2 linked regions of the Homo sapiens genome follow. The protein of the gene in region 2 interacts with the protein of the main gene of each other region in a biochemical or structural test. Each region holds a gene or a part of one and is shown on either strand. Other genes may lie near its edges.

Region 1 (7,242 bases), about 170 Mb from region 2:
TTTTAAATATAATATATAAAAATATATATTAAAATTTAAATTTCAATGTGAATTTAAACCTTTAATTACCACTGACAGATCAAGAACACCATCATCTCAGACAAACACCACCACTTTAAGTTCCAGCTCCCTTTCTAGCCTCATGCATTTCAAGGAAATCACTTATCTTCTAACCACAAGCAGCCAGAAAGAGCAGACAGTAAAACACAGACAAGACAGCTTGAGCACAGAGGGAGGTTGAGGGGAAGTCTTTTAGGTAACTGCCAAACTTCACTGTCATACAATGGGTCCCAGTAAAACAGTGGGCCTAAATAAGCACATTAGTTTCTCTTTAGTGTTCTAAGATAGGGAAGCTAAAAGCAGATTCAGGGTGGGTATGCCTGCAGCTGCAGGAAGATGTACGGGAACAGACACACAACTCTCCCTCCCAGATAAGCACAACAAAGAGAAACAGAAGCAGTCCAAGTCTCTAATAAACCCTCCCACGCCAAATCCTTAAAACTCTTAGTCTGTAAGAGAGTGGGCTCTGACTTAACTCAGCCAGAAGCCCCTCTCAGGTTTTTTTTCTCTAAAATAAACCTGTCCTTGACTGTGGAGCCACCTTTTGTGTTTCTTTCCTCTTTCTTTAATTCTTACAACCAAAAAAATAGTTTTCCTCCATTATCTAGAAATCTCTCTTACAGGAAAATACAACCTACACTATCATGTAAGCATTTCAATTAACTTTTGTTTTACTTACTTAAACTGAGAGGTTATTATATAAAAGTATTAATTATAACTATTAATAATAATTTATCTTTTATGACAAAAATACATGAACATTCACTTGTTTGTGCCTTGTACCAACTTTTGAGATTGGTTTATCAGTTATCATTATTATCTAAAGATAATTTTAAAGATCATGGAACTGATACTCAGAAAAGCTAAATGTCTTGACAAATCTAGTAAATGTTAGAGCAGAAACTCAAACCCTGGCTTTCTGAATGAAAGTCGTAATTTCCCTCGACATATCTCCTTATTCACTCACTCATGCATTCATTCATTTATCTAAAACATTTCTTAAGCCTCTATTACTTTCTAGACATCCTGTCAGGCATGAAGACACACAGGAGGGTAAAATTCAACCTTGGAATGCAATTTCTTTGAGGAACCAGACATTAAAAAAAAAAACTGAACAAAATAGTACATTTTAAAAAGCTGCAAGACATATTTGTACCAACTGCTATAAGCTCATAAGTGAAAAGTAAAGGGCATAATTATGGCTGCAGAGGATCAAGGAGAATTCAAAGGAACTTTGAAAGTTCACCAACAAGATTTGAGGACAGACATTCTAGGAAGAGACAACAATATGACCATCATTTTAACAATTTTGATGTTTGGAGAAAATGAGTGTGACAGGCTGTGTCTACAGCAGAGGGGACCCAAGCCATCAGGGTAGCAGAGGCTGAGAGCAACATTGAGCTTGCCAGGGGCCTTGACAACGATGCTCATAAGAAGGAGAGTTAGGAGTTAAATCACCAAAAGTACATTTTAAAAAAAGATCAGGAGTTTTCAATGGGGCAAGCAGAGACAGTGAGTTGAATTACAGTAATCCTGGTGAGAAATGATAGGAATTTGAGTTAAGCCACACTGGGAATGGGAAGTCAGGTTCTCATTTGAGCAATCAGCTTTGGGTAACTAAGCCAATGTAACGTGGAGCAAAGAAGTCAGATCCAATATAGGACCCACTGTATGATTTCATTTATATAAAGTACAGGATCAGGCAAAATGAATCTGTGTGTTAGAAGTCCAGCAAGTGCTTACCAGGGTAGTGGCTGGAGTGCAGCATGCACTTCTGGCGCTGGTGATGCTTTCTCTCTGAATCTGCAGGCTATTTACCTGGCTGTGATTGCTTTGTGAAATTCATCAGGGTGCACATCCAGAATATGTGTAATCTGGTGCATGTATGCTATGCTTTTGTTAAAAAGTTAAACAAGGAGGGAAAGAAGCTAGAGATGTTGCTGAAGTTACTAGTTGAGAAGGTACTCTAGGAAAGACAGGAAGACAAGGACGGAAGGCAGAACAGATCTGGAGTGGAAGATATTGCATTCGAAGGTCACGTGCTGAGTTCTCTCCAAGACGCTGCCAGTTACTAATGTGGTGATGCTCAGTAAGCATTCTTGAAGGCTAAGTCCTTGACATATTTGTTAAAAAAATTTTAAGGTTTCCTATTAAAAGAATATACACAAACTCAAATATAAGATTCAACTACTGCTATTTTTATGTCAAAGTTTTTGTTTTTGTTTCCAACTTTTCTAATTATTAATAACTGTTTCTGGAAAACCCAAATTCGTTAGTGTTGTGGGCAAACTCAGAAAGTAGTACAAACTTCCCAAACCGCCTCTTTCCAAACACCAAGTGTAATAGGGACCTGCCCTTTGCATAGACCCCTTCTTGCTTCCAAATGGCAGGAGGGACAGGTTTGCTCCACAAATCCCCTGTTCCAGCCCAATTCTGTGATTTAGGAAGGACTAGGTGCCCACTCCAAAATTCACTGAATTATTTTCTCATAGGACAACATGCTCACCATGCAAGGGTAAATGGTGACCTCAAGCTTTGGAGAAGCTCTCCAGCTTGTGCATACCCCCAGCCCCTTCTCGCCTTACCCCACTGCCCAGTGGTTGAGAATCCTGATTTCTGTCTAGGACCATGTACTCACCAGCTTCCTTAAGCAAAAGCAATCCTCTCTTTGCTTCCTCAAGGGGCAGCACAAAGGATGTTTTGGCTGTGTGGAAACAGAAGCCGCATTTGTAGTTGCACTGGCGAGTGAAGTGATAGTTGACGCTGGTTGGGGTGGTGGGCAGAGGAGGGTCCTCTTCCTCCTCTTTGGTCTCATCTGGCCCTCTCAGGACCAGCTGCTGCTTTCTCCTCTTGGTAGCTAGCAGCCAGAAGGTTGCCCTCAGCCAGCAGAACAGCGGGACCAGGCTCCTCCACAGAGAGCTCAGAGGTTGCCTGAACACACTCAAGAGCTTCCCAGCAAAAGCAGCAGGTGTAAGCACCCACATTGTGGCAGATGCCTGGAGCAGAGCAGTCTCTGTATGCCAGGGACTCTCTTTATATAGGGATGGAAATCAGCAGTCTCTGAGCAACCTGTCATTGGGGAGCAGGACACACCTTCTTTGACTAACACTCAGCTGAGTTAGAGTTTCGATTTTTCCACATGTGAAACTGAAAGTTGAAACAGGGCCAAGACTGAAGACTAGAGATCGGGGCGAGCATTCCTGGTTTCTCTGCTCACGGCTGCCTCAGTCCACTTGTATTATAACAGTCTCTCTAGCTTGATGTAGTTACACATGAGGATAGCAGTCTCTATCAATATCTAGCTCTCTGTCTGATAGAGATAGACAAGGTGCATTAATCAGCACGCTTTGTACTTGTTGCATTGCTTTCTCTTGACATAGCCAAGTAACAGTTTTTGCTCCATCATGGTGAAGGGGTTTCTTTTTAAAGCCAAATAATAAACAGACTGATTGGCTGGTGGAGGATGAGTACAGGATCATTCACCTCAAGACCCCTTTCAGATCACAGTAAAAAGGCATGGAACAAAATTGAATTTAGGTCTTATTCCATCAGCTATTCAGCCTAATTTATGCAAGGTGACAGTGTTAAAATTTAGATATTTACATCTTCCTATATTTTGATATCACTTTTTATAGATGTTTTTAACTAGAGGAAATCCAATGCTTTTCTAAGATGCTTCCTAATTGGTGAGAATTACTGCGACACATCATTTATTTACCTTTACAGTTTTTTTAGAAAGCCTTGTTGACCTTTTTACTGAAATCTTCCTTTTAGCCCTCTTTCATCAGAACTGTGTGTAAGTGTGTGGTCTTGTGCTTTCGTGACACCTGTAGGAAGTTGGAAGAGTCCTAGTAGCTGAACTTCCAGAGCCACAAATCATGTAGCTGGGTGACTGAGTAAGCGACTTTATTTCTCTGGATTTCCATTTCTTCATCAGCAAAGCAACGTATCTCAGGCGATTTTTGTGCAGAGTAAAACTGCTAATTTTTGTGAAGAATTCAGAATAGTGCCTGGCAAACTTTAAGTGTTCAGTTAGGGTTAGCTCCTGTTATTCTGATACTGTCATATTCTGAATAGAAACAGAAATGATTTATTTTACTTAAAAAAAATTAAACATGTTTAACTTAACATTTAACATCTGCAAAATTGTATGCTTAATGATTACCAAATATTCAACAGTAGATATGTCTCAGGTCCTTGAAATCTCAGCCCAAAGTTTCTTAAACTCTCATGCCATGGTCTTGCACAATTGAAAACCACTTTTGGATAGATCTCACTTCTTCATAAACATGTGATCATGAGAGGCATACAGGCACCTGTTAAATTTGAATCAAATTCTTTTGGGTTAACTTGGTTCCCCTTTCTGGCTGGAGCAACCTTTGAAGTCTCAAAGGTTAGGTCAGCACGATCCTAGTGGGGGTCTCTTGCAGGCATCTGTTAAAATAGGCTAGGAAAATCTTAAAGAGGCTCCAAATGCTTAGCCCAAACATAAGGAGGATCAAGACTTGTAGGGTGGCATGCAGAAGGAACCCTACTGCAGGGGAAGCCGGCTGGAAATATCTGGAGATCAGAAACTTAACCTAGAAGGTCCAGCCAGGAGGCTTTTTGAAGCTGTTTTTCAGAGATTTGGCTAGCCTTAAGATCTTAGATGTTTCAAATTCAACCTGCCTGGAAGTATTTACCCTGTGGAAAGTGGCAGCAACAGCACAAACATCACTCTGTGCAGGGAGGAGATAGTCTAAAGCAATGTGTTTGTCTAGGACCACACGAGCAAGGGAGTCTATGGACCTCTGTTGCACCCTGATGGCCTGGGTGGTAGAGCAGGCAATCCTGCGAACAGTTCAGGAAGGGTTTCTGATCATTTATGAATTCCAAGCAGAATCTAGTTTAAATTGGGACCGGAAAAACCTTCCTAATCTAGCTCCTTCTAGGGTTAACCCTTCTAGATGAATTATATCCTTGAGAGTATCCACAACTATTATCTTCATAATCTGAGGGATTATCATGAGTGTTGGATTATAGCTGTTAGAGAACAGGGCAGGTAGTGTTGGGGATAACTGAATAGATGGGAATTTGGGTAAAAGGTATTTCCATGGCCAAATCTCCTGGTGAGGATAACTCAAGCATTATTTCTCCTTTCTGGGAGAATAAAATATGGGCCTGGAATGTTTCTAAGAAGTCCCTGCCTAGGAAGTGTATGGAAGCCCAAAGGAAAAACAACTGCCCGTGAGGGGTACTAGTTGGAAAAGAATAGGTGAAGATTAGGAACCATCATAGGTTGGTTGGCTACCCCAACCATCTGGATGAATTCAGAACTCCAGGGAGGGTCCATGGAAAGCATGCTGGGGTTAAGGATGGACAGAGTAGCCCCAGTGTTGACCAGAGCTCTGATGAGTTTTCTCCAATCTTAATACCTAATTCCCCTAGTTGAATAATTCGAGTAGGGGAAATGTCCCAAGAGGCTCTATAGTTTTGCTTGAGGGAAGAGGGCTGGTAAACTTTATCAGGATTTAACTGTATCCAGATATTGTAGGAAATTAGGAGAACTCAGGATCCAGTCCAGTCTACAGGTAGAAAACCAGAACTTGAAAACAGTGCATAGGGCTTTAACCTAAAGTAGGTGCACGTTAGTTTTTCTTAAGAACATGACTTTTTCTCTCCACATTAATCATACAGGAACTTTCAGGTTTTAGAACCTCTAGAGGCTAGGAAGCCAAATCAAGGCAGGCTTTAGATTTTACTTAGGGTCTTAAGGTTCTTGGGCCTACCAGGAAGTGACAAGTTTTATGTATTCACTGTAAGGCTGGGAACTCTTGAAGCCAGGCATGTGATGACCCTTCTTAAATATGACTTTTCAATCAAAGCCTAGTAATATAATCAGTATTTCCAATAGTATCCTGCTTACAAAGGGAGAGCAGATTTTTACTGAACTTACAGAAATAAAATAAGAATGCTCACAAATAGTGTCTGAATTTTGGAGGACTCAAGTAGGGAGAAAGGCAAATGCTTCCACTTTTGTTCATAAAAGTATACTTCCCCAAATTATTGCAAACTATAACTAATGAAAGAAAAATTCCTTGAATCTGAAAAAAAATTTAAGTGTAGAACCAACATTTTAAATAAAAGTCATAAAGTTATCCTTATCAACTACTTACTTTCGGTTAATTAATTTTGCTTTCCTTAATTAGTAATTTTGGGCTATAGCTGATTGCAAATGCTTCTAGAGAAGAATTTAAAACAATAATCGTGGATGAGAAAAATCCAGAACAGCTATGATCAAAACTCTGATGAGAGTTTACAAGGAAATTGTAAGAAATAATGTAGAAATAATTGCAAGAAAATTTAAAAGAAAATTTAGGTATTTTTGTGGCATACAATCATTAAACTAAATAATCATACTCAAGACTGATAACACATATTATGATATATTAGTCAATTCTTGCATTGCTGTAAAGAAATACCCAAGATTGGGTCATTTATAAGGAAAATAGGTTGAATTGGCTCATTCTTATGCAGGCTGTACAGGAAGCATCATGCTGGCATCTGCTTGGCTTCTGGGGAGGCCTCAGGAAACTTAAAATCATGACAGAAGGAAAAGGGGGAGAAGATGTCTCGCATGTCCAGAGCAGGAGCAAGAGAGAAAGATGCTGGGGCAGGAGGAGGCGCTACACACTTTTAAACGATCAGATCTCACAAGAACTCACTATCCTGGGGACAGTACCAAGTTGACAGTACTAAGCCATTCATGAGGACCTGCTCCCGTGATCCAATCACTTCCCACCAGGTTGCACCTCCAACATTGAGGTTTACAATTTCAACATGAGATTTGGTTGGGGACACAAATCTAAACCATATCATATAACATCTTGGAATTTTAAGATCTCATGCAATTTGGAACACATATTAGTAACATATTTATATAAATATAACTTAAAGGGAGTTAAGCATCATTTCTTATTTGATATGCTTCCCATATGATTTGCCAAATAAGCCTAATCATTTAGTATCTCTTCAAGATCAAAAAGGCTTAATTTAGGGTTTTGATATTGAGGAAACCTGCCAAAGATGTCAAAAGGTTCAAAATACTTGATTAAGCAGAATCATATGTCACTCCTAAATAAGCAAAGTGATAATCAGAAGACTTCGAAAAGAATACAGATTTACATGGATGTGAAAACCCTG
Region 2 (7,445 bases):
TATTCTACCAAAAATTTCTCCATAGCACCAAATCCTAAGAGAAAAGGTTTTTAAAAGGTTTAGTTTGGAAGTGACTTAAATTGTCAAACCTGCAATAGGGTTATTATAAGTGGAATAGGGGTATGATTTAAAACATGCTGATAGATCATAAAAGCACAAGTCATTCTCCACATACTCTTAAATAAATGTATTAAGAATGCCAGCTGGGCACGGTGGCTCACGCCTGTAATCCCAGCACTCTGGGAGGCTGAGGTGGGTGGATCACAAGGTCAGGAGTTCGAGGTCAGCCTCGCCAAGATGGTGAAACCCGTCTCTACTAAAAATACAAAAATTAGCCGGGCACGGTGACGGGCGCCTGTAATCCCAGCTACTTGGGAGGCTGAGGCAGGAGAATCTCTTGAACCCAGGAGGCAGAGGGTGCAGTGAGCCGAGATCATGCCACTGCCCTCTAGCCTGGGCGACAGAGCAAGACTCCATCTCAAAAAAAAAAAAAAAAAAAAAGAATGCCTCATTACAAAACAGAAAAAGAAATCACTTTTGAGATACAGGCTTATAAACTAGGAATACTTAATATAAATGAATAAACCTGAAAATTAACATGATAGATTACTAACATTTCTGAACATGTACTAATACAAATTACCTGCTAGGATTTATACCTAAGTCGTCTTTTTCATTATAAGATGTAAAAAGCAAAATGAGAATGTCCTCTGATAATTATGACAGAATTTCATTTTAAGTATTGGAAAAAGTCTACCAGAGTGCTTCAGATAAGGAAATGATAATGCATGGAATGTCTCAAGAAGAATACACAAATATCTGGTAACCATAGTTACCATGGGTAAAGAAAGAAGGAAGAGGAACAGGGGCACAAAGAAAACATCTTTCCACTGTATTAAATATTTAAAAATCATGTATGCCTAAAGTCATAAACTGTGAGCTACTGGCACAATAGTTTTACTACATAGTGGCTACTCAATAATATACATAATAAATAACATTGGAAGATATCACTATCAAGAGAAACTTTCAAGATAACAAATCTCCTGACAAAATGGGCATATGATTAGTAAAAATGGGCTGGGCGCGGTGGCTCACGCCTGTAATTTCAGCACTTTGGGAGGCCGAGGCAGGGGGATCGCGAGGTCGAGACGGATATCATCCTGGCCAACATGGTGAAACCCCATCTCCACTAAAAATACAAAAATTAGCTGGACGTGGTGGCGCGTGACTGTAGTCCTAGCTACTCCGGAGGCTGAGGCAGAATTGCTTGAATCCAGAAGGCAAAGGTTGCCGAGATCGCGCCACTGCACTCCAGCCTGGTGACAGAGCGAGACTCAGTCTCCAAAAAAAAAAAAAATCAGTAAAAATTCAGACAGAAAAAAGCCATAAGCAAAAAATAAAAAGGGGTACAATGATGTGCTATAAACTTCAAAAAGGGGTTAAAACACACACACAGAAAATGGGAAAGACTTGAAGCAGTACAGATTAATAGTCTGGAGTGAGAATTCCTGGATTCTGACTATTTCACACACTTACTGAGCTAGTAAGCTCAGGGAACTAGAGCACATTACTTAACCCCTCTGACCCTAATCTACAGAACCGAGATTACAGAATTTACTTCGAGGAATGTAAGCAACAAAATTTAACCTGTGAAATCATATATTAGCTCAATCTGCACAATTCTATAAGTAGGTATTACATCAACCCCATTTTACATTCAAAAGTTCAGGCTTAGAAAGAGGTTTAGTTGAAGGGCATCCAACTACTAAATGATGGGCCCAAAATTCGAATTTAGATGTAATTCTTAGAGTACGTCCTCCCTCTTCTGTGGTACTTCAAGATCCTACAATCTCCATCTGGTAGAAAAGTCCTTCTTTAAACATCTGTAGAGCTCACACAACAGCTTGTCTATCCCACATATTCATAAAAATGGAATGGTTAATGTAGAGAGACTATGAGGAATGCCCTGTAAAGAGATGATAAAAGCAACAAAGGCCAGCGAAGTGGCTCAATCCTGTCATTCCAACACTTTGGGAAGCTGAGGCGAGAGGATGGCTTGAGGCCAAGAGTTCCAGACCGGCCTGAGGCAATACAGCCAGACTCTGTCTCTAAAAGGTTAAAAAAAATTGTTTTTTTTTAGCCGAATGTTGTGGCGCATGCCTGTAGTCCTAGCTACTCGGGAGGCTGAGGCAAGAGGATCGCTTGAGCCTACGAGGAGTTGGAAGCTGCCCGGAACTATGATCGCTGCACTCCAGCCTGGGCGACAGAGAGACCCTGTCTCAGGAAAAAGAAACTGTCCATAACTTCAAAAGATAAGTAATCGAAAAAAATAATCACACCAAAACAGCCTTAATACACGTACAAAGTAATAGCAATTATACATTATTAAATGTTGTAACTTGAAGGGTCTCTAGAATGTACACAAGAGAATTGTATTATAGTAGTCCAACCCTAAAAGAGAAGGGAGCAGTTCAGGAACAAAGTCTTTCTCAAAGGGCATCTAAATACGATCCTCGGAATACTAAAGTGTGACAGATTAACGAGACGACTACGAAGTCAGTCGAGATCCAAGTGGGAGCGCCAGAGCAGGGCAAGGCAGCAATGCGCTAGCTCAGAAGTTGACTGTAGTGGAAGGTAGACGGAGACCTGGAAGAGGAGGAGGATCTGAGCATTAAAATCAGCTGGCGGGAACAGGACCAGATGTACAAGAGCTGAAGCAAGCAGCAGTGGACAAAAGGAATGGGAAGAGAAACAGGCCCCAAGGCATGTGGCATTTTACGAGCCCAAATCATGACGCTTTTCCCTGGCGTCTTCGGCCCTCGGTAGGGGCCGGATTGCTGGCAGAAGGCGCAGAACCCCAAGCAGTTGGGGGCGGGGGCGCGGACCGCCGCCAACAAGGAGCTGCTGGGCTGAGAGTTCCGCGCTTCCGGTCCCAAGCAGGCCTTCTGGAACCCAGGCTACAGCCCGAAAGTTCTAGGCGGGCATTGTCACCACCGTCTCGGCGTTCTATCCCCGATCTGGCCGCCTCCTCCCCTTGGTAAACTTTTCCCGGTAACTTACCCGCCATTTCCGAGCTACGATCACCCGCGGCTGAGGAAGGACGAATCAACCCGCGCGCTCCCGGGCCGGAAGTGACCGCACAGTCTGACATATTTTCCCCGCCCACTCCCAGCGTGACGTTAGCCAATTAAAGGAGGCGTGTCCAGGAGCCCGGCGGCGGAAGCGCCTCAAGAGGCGGGGCTAACGCCGAGAAGTCTGCGCGGGCCGTTGCCTAGCCACTGCGAATGCCGTCAGCCGCTTTGCAGGCCTGAAGTGGAGAAGGAGGCCGCAAACGGACTTTCGCGGTTGAGATGCTCTCTGGCCCTAGGAAAGTTTCTCTGGGGTTGATTTGATCAATACAGACACTTTACGCCTGTTTTCCATACCCGTCCCTGAGATGTTTTGGAGACTGGCTGAAAATCTTTCCTCTTGGCCTGGACAGTGCATCCAAACACCTGAGCCCTGTGGGCAATTTTACCATTTTACCTAGGTAAAATGTAGAGGTTGAGTTTCAGTTGCGGGAGAAGCTTTCACTTGTTTTCCTCATTTGTTTCTCATTTTGCTGTAAACTTTAACACCTTTTTTCCTTTCTCCCCTGTTTTTAACGTATACAGTATGATATTTAGGTACTCTGCTTTCACTCTGCAGGTTACTAAGAACCGTTTAGCGCGCAAAAATCGTTACCTAGGCCGGGCGCGGTGGCTCACGCCTATAATCCCAGCACTTTGGGAGGCCGAGGCGGGTAGATTGCCTGAGCTCAGGAGTTCGAGACCAGTGTAGCCAACATAGTGAAACCCCGTCTCTACTAAAAATACAAAAATTAGCCAGGCATGGTGGCAGGCGCCTGTAATCCCAGCTACTCGGGAGGCTGAGGCAGGAGAATCGCTTGAACCCTGGAGGCGAAAGTTGCAGTGAGCCGAGATTGCGCCACTACACTCCAGCCTGGGCAACAGAGTGAGACTCCGTCTCAAAAAAAAAAAAAAATTGTTACCTAATAAATACCTCAAGTAGCCTGATGTAGTCTTGCATGCCACATGTCCTAGTGGTTTGAATTACATCACAAGGTGCTACCTGATTTTAGCCATAGGCCTTGTTAGTATTTAGTAGCTGTAGGAACTGCTTTCCCCAGAGGATAAACCACTATTTAGGTATCCACAAATATTCCCACAATGTTGGCTATACACCAGAATTCCTTATCTCAACAAATATTTGTTAACAGGTTTTACAGTGATGCACGCTAAAGCTAAAATGGACCCTTGGGATGATGGTCTAGAACTAACACGCCCTCTCATTTTAGAGATGAGGAAACCAAAGCCCAGAAAAGATAAACTGCCCAAGTTCATTCTCAGTATGCAACCTATGCAGAGTGCAGTTCATCAGATACTCAGCCCAGTATTTATTTGCTCAACTATATAGAGATGGCTTTCCTGAAGATAAAGATCAGAAAAGGTACTGAGAATGCCCAGATCCTTTTTCTTTCTTTTTTTTTTTTTTTTTTTTAGACGGAGTTTCACTCTTGTTGCCCAGGCTGGAGTGCAATGGCACAATCTCAGCTCACCACAGCCTCCGCCTCCCGGGTTCAAGCGATTCTTCTGCCTCAGCCTCCTGAGTCGCTGGGATTACAGGCATGCGCCACCACACCCAGCAATTTTGTATTTTTGTAGAGACGGGGTTTCTCCATGTTGGTTAGGCTGATCTCGAACTCCCAACCTCAGATGATCTGCCCATCTCGGCCTCCAAAAGTGCTGGGATTACAGTCGTGATCCCAAGAAAAGGTTTCAAGATCCTTTTTCTTGAAACCTAATGATACACAAGAAATTACAGTCATAGGCCGGGCGTGGTGGCTCACGCCTGTAATCCCAGCACTTTGTGATGCCGAGGCGGGCGGATCACGAGATCAGGAGATCCAGACCATCCTGACTAACATGGTGAAACCCTGTCTCTACTAAAAATACAAAAAAAGTAGCCGGGCGTGGTAGCGGGTGCCTGCAGTCCCAGCTACTCAGGAGGCTGAGGCAGGAGAATGGCGTGAACCTGGAAGGCGGAGCTTGCAGTGAGCCGAGATCCCGCCACTGCACTCCAGCCTGGGCAAGAGCGAGACCCCGTCTCAAAAAAAAAAAAAGAAATTACAGTCATAATGTTAAGACAGAAAACTGAAATCAATGAGACTAATGACATTATGGATCAAAAAAGGAAAACAATCTTTTTCTTTAATAATCATTTTTGGCTAGGCACGGTGGCTCACACCTGTAATCCCAGCACTTGGGAGGCCAAGGCAGGCAGATCACCTGAGGTCAGGAGTTTGAGACCAGCCTGGCCAACATGGTAAAACCCTGTCTCTACTAAAAAGTACAATAAATTAACCAGGCGTGGTGACATGAGCCTGTAATCTCAACTACTTGGGAGGCTGAGGCAGTAGAATCGCTTGAACCCAGGAGGCGGAGGTTGCAGTGAGCTGAGATAGTGCCACTGCACTCCAGCCTGCTCAAGAGAGCGAGACTCCATCTCAAAAAAAAAAAAAAACTTTTCTTTTCAAAATGGCAAGACTTATCATTTCTTTCCAAAATCACCTTATCTATGGATCAATTGCTGACCAGCAATTATGATCTTTATAAGTAAGAAATCAAGAAGAATTACGTTTTAACTGTGGTATATCACAGATTATTAGTCCTGTGATATTATGGTTAGTTGTAGGAAAAAAATATGATGAAACTTACTGATATATTGTATGACTAGCATTTAATGTGATTTGCTTGCAGAATTGAGGTTTTATATTGTCCTCGTCTTAGATGTTCACTTTTTTTTTTTTTTTTTTTTTTGAGACAGGGTCTCACTCTCACCCAGGCTGGATTGCAATGATGCAATCATAGCTCACTACAGCCTCCAGCCTCCAACTGCTGGGCTCAAAAGATCCTCCTGCCTCTCAGCCTCCCAAATAGCCAGGACTACAAATGTGTGCCATTGTGCACAGCTAATTTTTTTGTTTTTTGTAGAAATGGAGTCTCAGTATGTTGCCCAGGCTGGTCCCAAACTCCTGGCCTCAAGCAATCCTCTCAGCTTGGCCTCCCGGAATGCTAGGATAATAGGTGTGAGCCACCATGTCCATCCTCACATTTTTTTTTTTTAATGTTACAGAATAGATGTTTTGGTACAGTTTACCTAAAAGATAAAAGAATGACTTATTTTGGAAAGGTAATGTGAAAATTACCCAAAAGGAAAAAAATTCTCTTTTTTTTTGTAGGGATTTCTTTCCTTTTTTAACTTATATTTTACTTTGTTCTAAAGAGAATTTAAGAAAGCAACTATTACAATCATGGAATAAAATTTCTATGAAAGGAATATGCTATCCTCATATATATATGGAAGAGACAACATATCTTGTGGGAAGTTTACTGCCCTACTAGTCCCAGTTCTACTACTTCATGCTTGTTCAACCTTGTTGCATCTATTAAGTGGAGATAATAGTACTGCCCAGTCACCACACTGGGTTGCTGTAAAAACTAAACGGAATAATATTTGTGAACGACCTTTGTAAACTCTAAAACTCTATGCAGGTATGAAGTGGTATTACTATGATAACATTTATTCTAGTAAGGGAGATTTGGAAAAGGCATTTTCTTCAGAGAAAAGGGCCATATTACACTATTAGGTATGAACTGGCAACCATGTGTTGGTACAGGCTCAAGTTCATATGGACTGATAAACTTCACTATCTTGCTTTGAAACCTCCAGAATGGATTAAAATTTGGCACAAAAAAATATGGTCATCGGGCCGGGCGCAGTGGCTCATGCCTGTAATCCCAGCACTTTGGGAGGCCGAGGCAGGCAGATCACGAGGTTAGGAGATCGACAGCATCCTGGCTAACACGGTGAAACCCCGTCTCTACTAAAAACACAAAAAATTAGCCAGGCGTGGTGGCGGGCGCCTGTAGTCCCAGCTACTTGGGAGGCTGAGGCAGGAGAATGGCATGCACCCAGGAGGCGGAGCTTGCAGTGAGCCGAGATCATGCCACTGTACTCCAGCCTGGGAGACAGACTCCGTCTCAAAATATATATATATATATATGGTCATCAGAAAATTGATGCAGGAAATCAATTTTAAGAAAAATGCATGTATGTAATGTGTCTTCATTTCAAAATGCATACCTTTACACAGACAAATAACAGTAGTTAGTTAGCTCATTTTTTTAGCTCGTAGTGCTAATGAGCATAAAGTTATGAGTCTCAGTTCCCAGAGCAATTATCCAGAAACCATTATCCAGCTAGATGACTTCCAAATGGGATACAAGAAAGAAAATAGGCTGGGCGCGGTGGCTCACGTCTGTGATCCCAGCACTTTGGGAGGCCGAGGCAGGCAAATCACATGAAGTCAGGAGTTCGAGACCAGCCTGGCCAACATGGTG

What was found.
Region 1: of the proteins of HAT1 (region 2) and RSAD2, one has a biochemical effect on the other in vitro, tested with the Homo sapiens proteins (one study listed by BioGRID).

What each region holds. Positions count from the first base shown.
Region 1 is NC_000002.12:6,873,603-6,880,844, reverse strand, and holds the start of RSAD2 (S-adenosylmethionine-dependent nucleotide dehydratase RSAD2), read right to left. Parts: upstream 3,069-7,242; 5' UTR 3,045-3,068; coding exon 2,699-3,044; intron 1-2,698.
Region 2 is NC_000002.12:171,918,126-171,925,570, reverse strand, and holds the start of HAT1 (histone acetyltransferase type B catalytic subunit), read right to left. Parts: upstream 3,111-7,445; 5' UTR 3,071-3,110; coding exon 3,064-3,070; intron 2,650-3,063; exon of another isoform or gene 2,454-2,649; intron 35-2,453; coding exon 1-34. UniProt on the Homo sapiens protein: Histone acetyltransferase that plays a role in different biological processes including cell cycle progression, glucose metabolism, histone production or DNA damage repair. Coordinates histone production and acetylation via H4 promoter binding.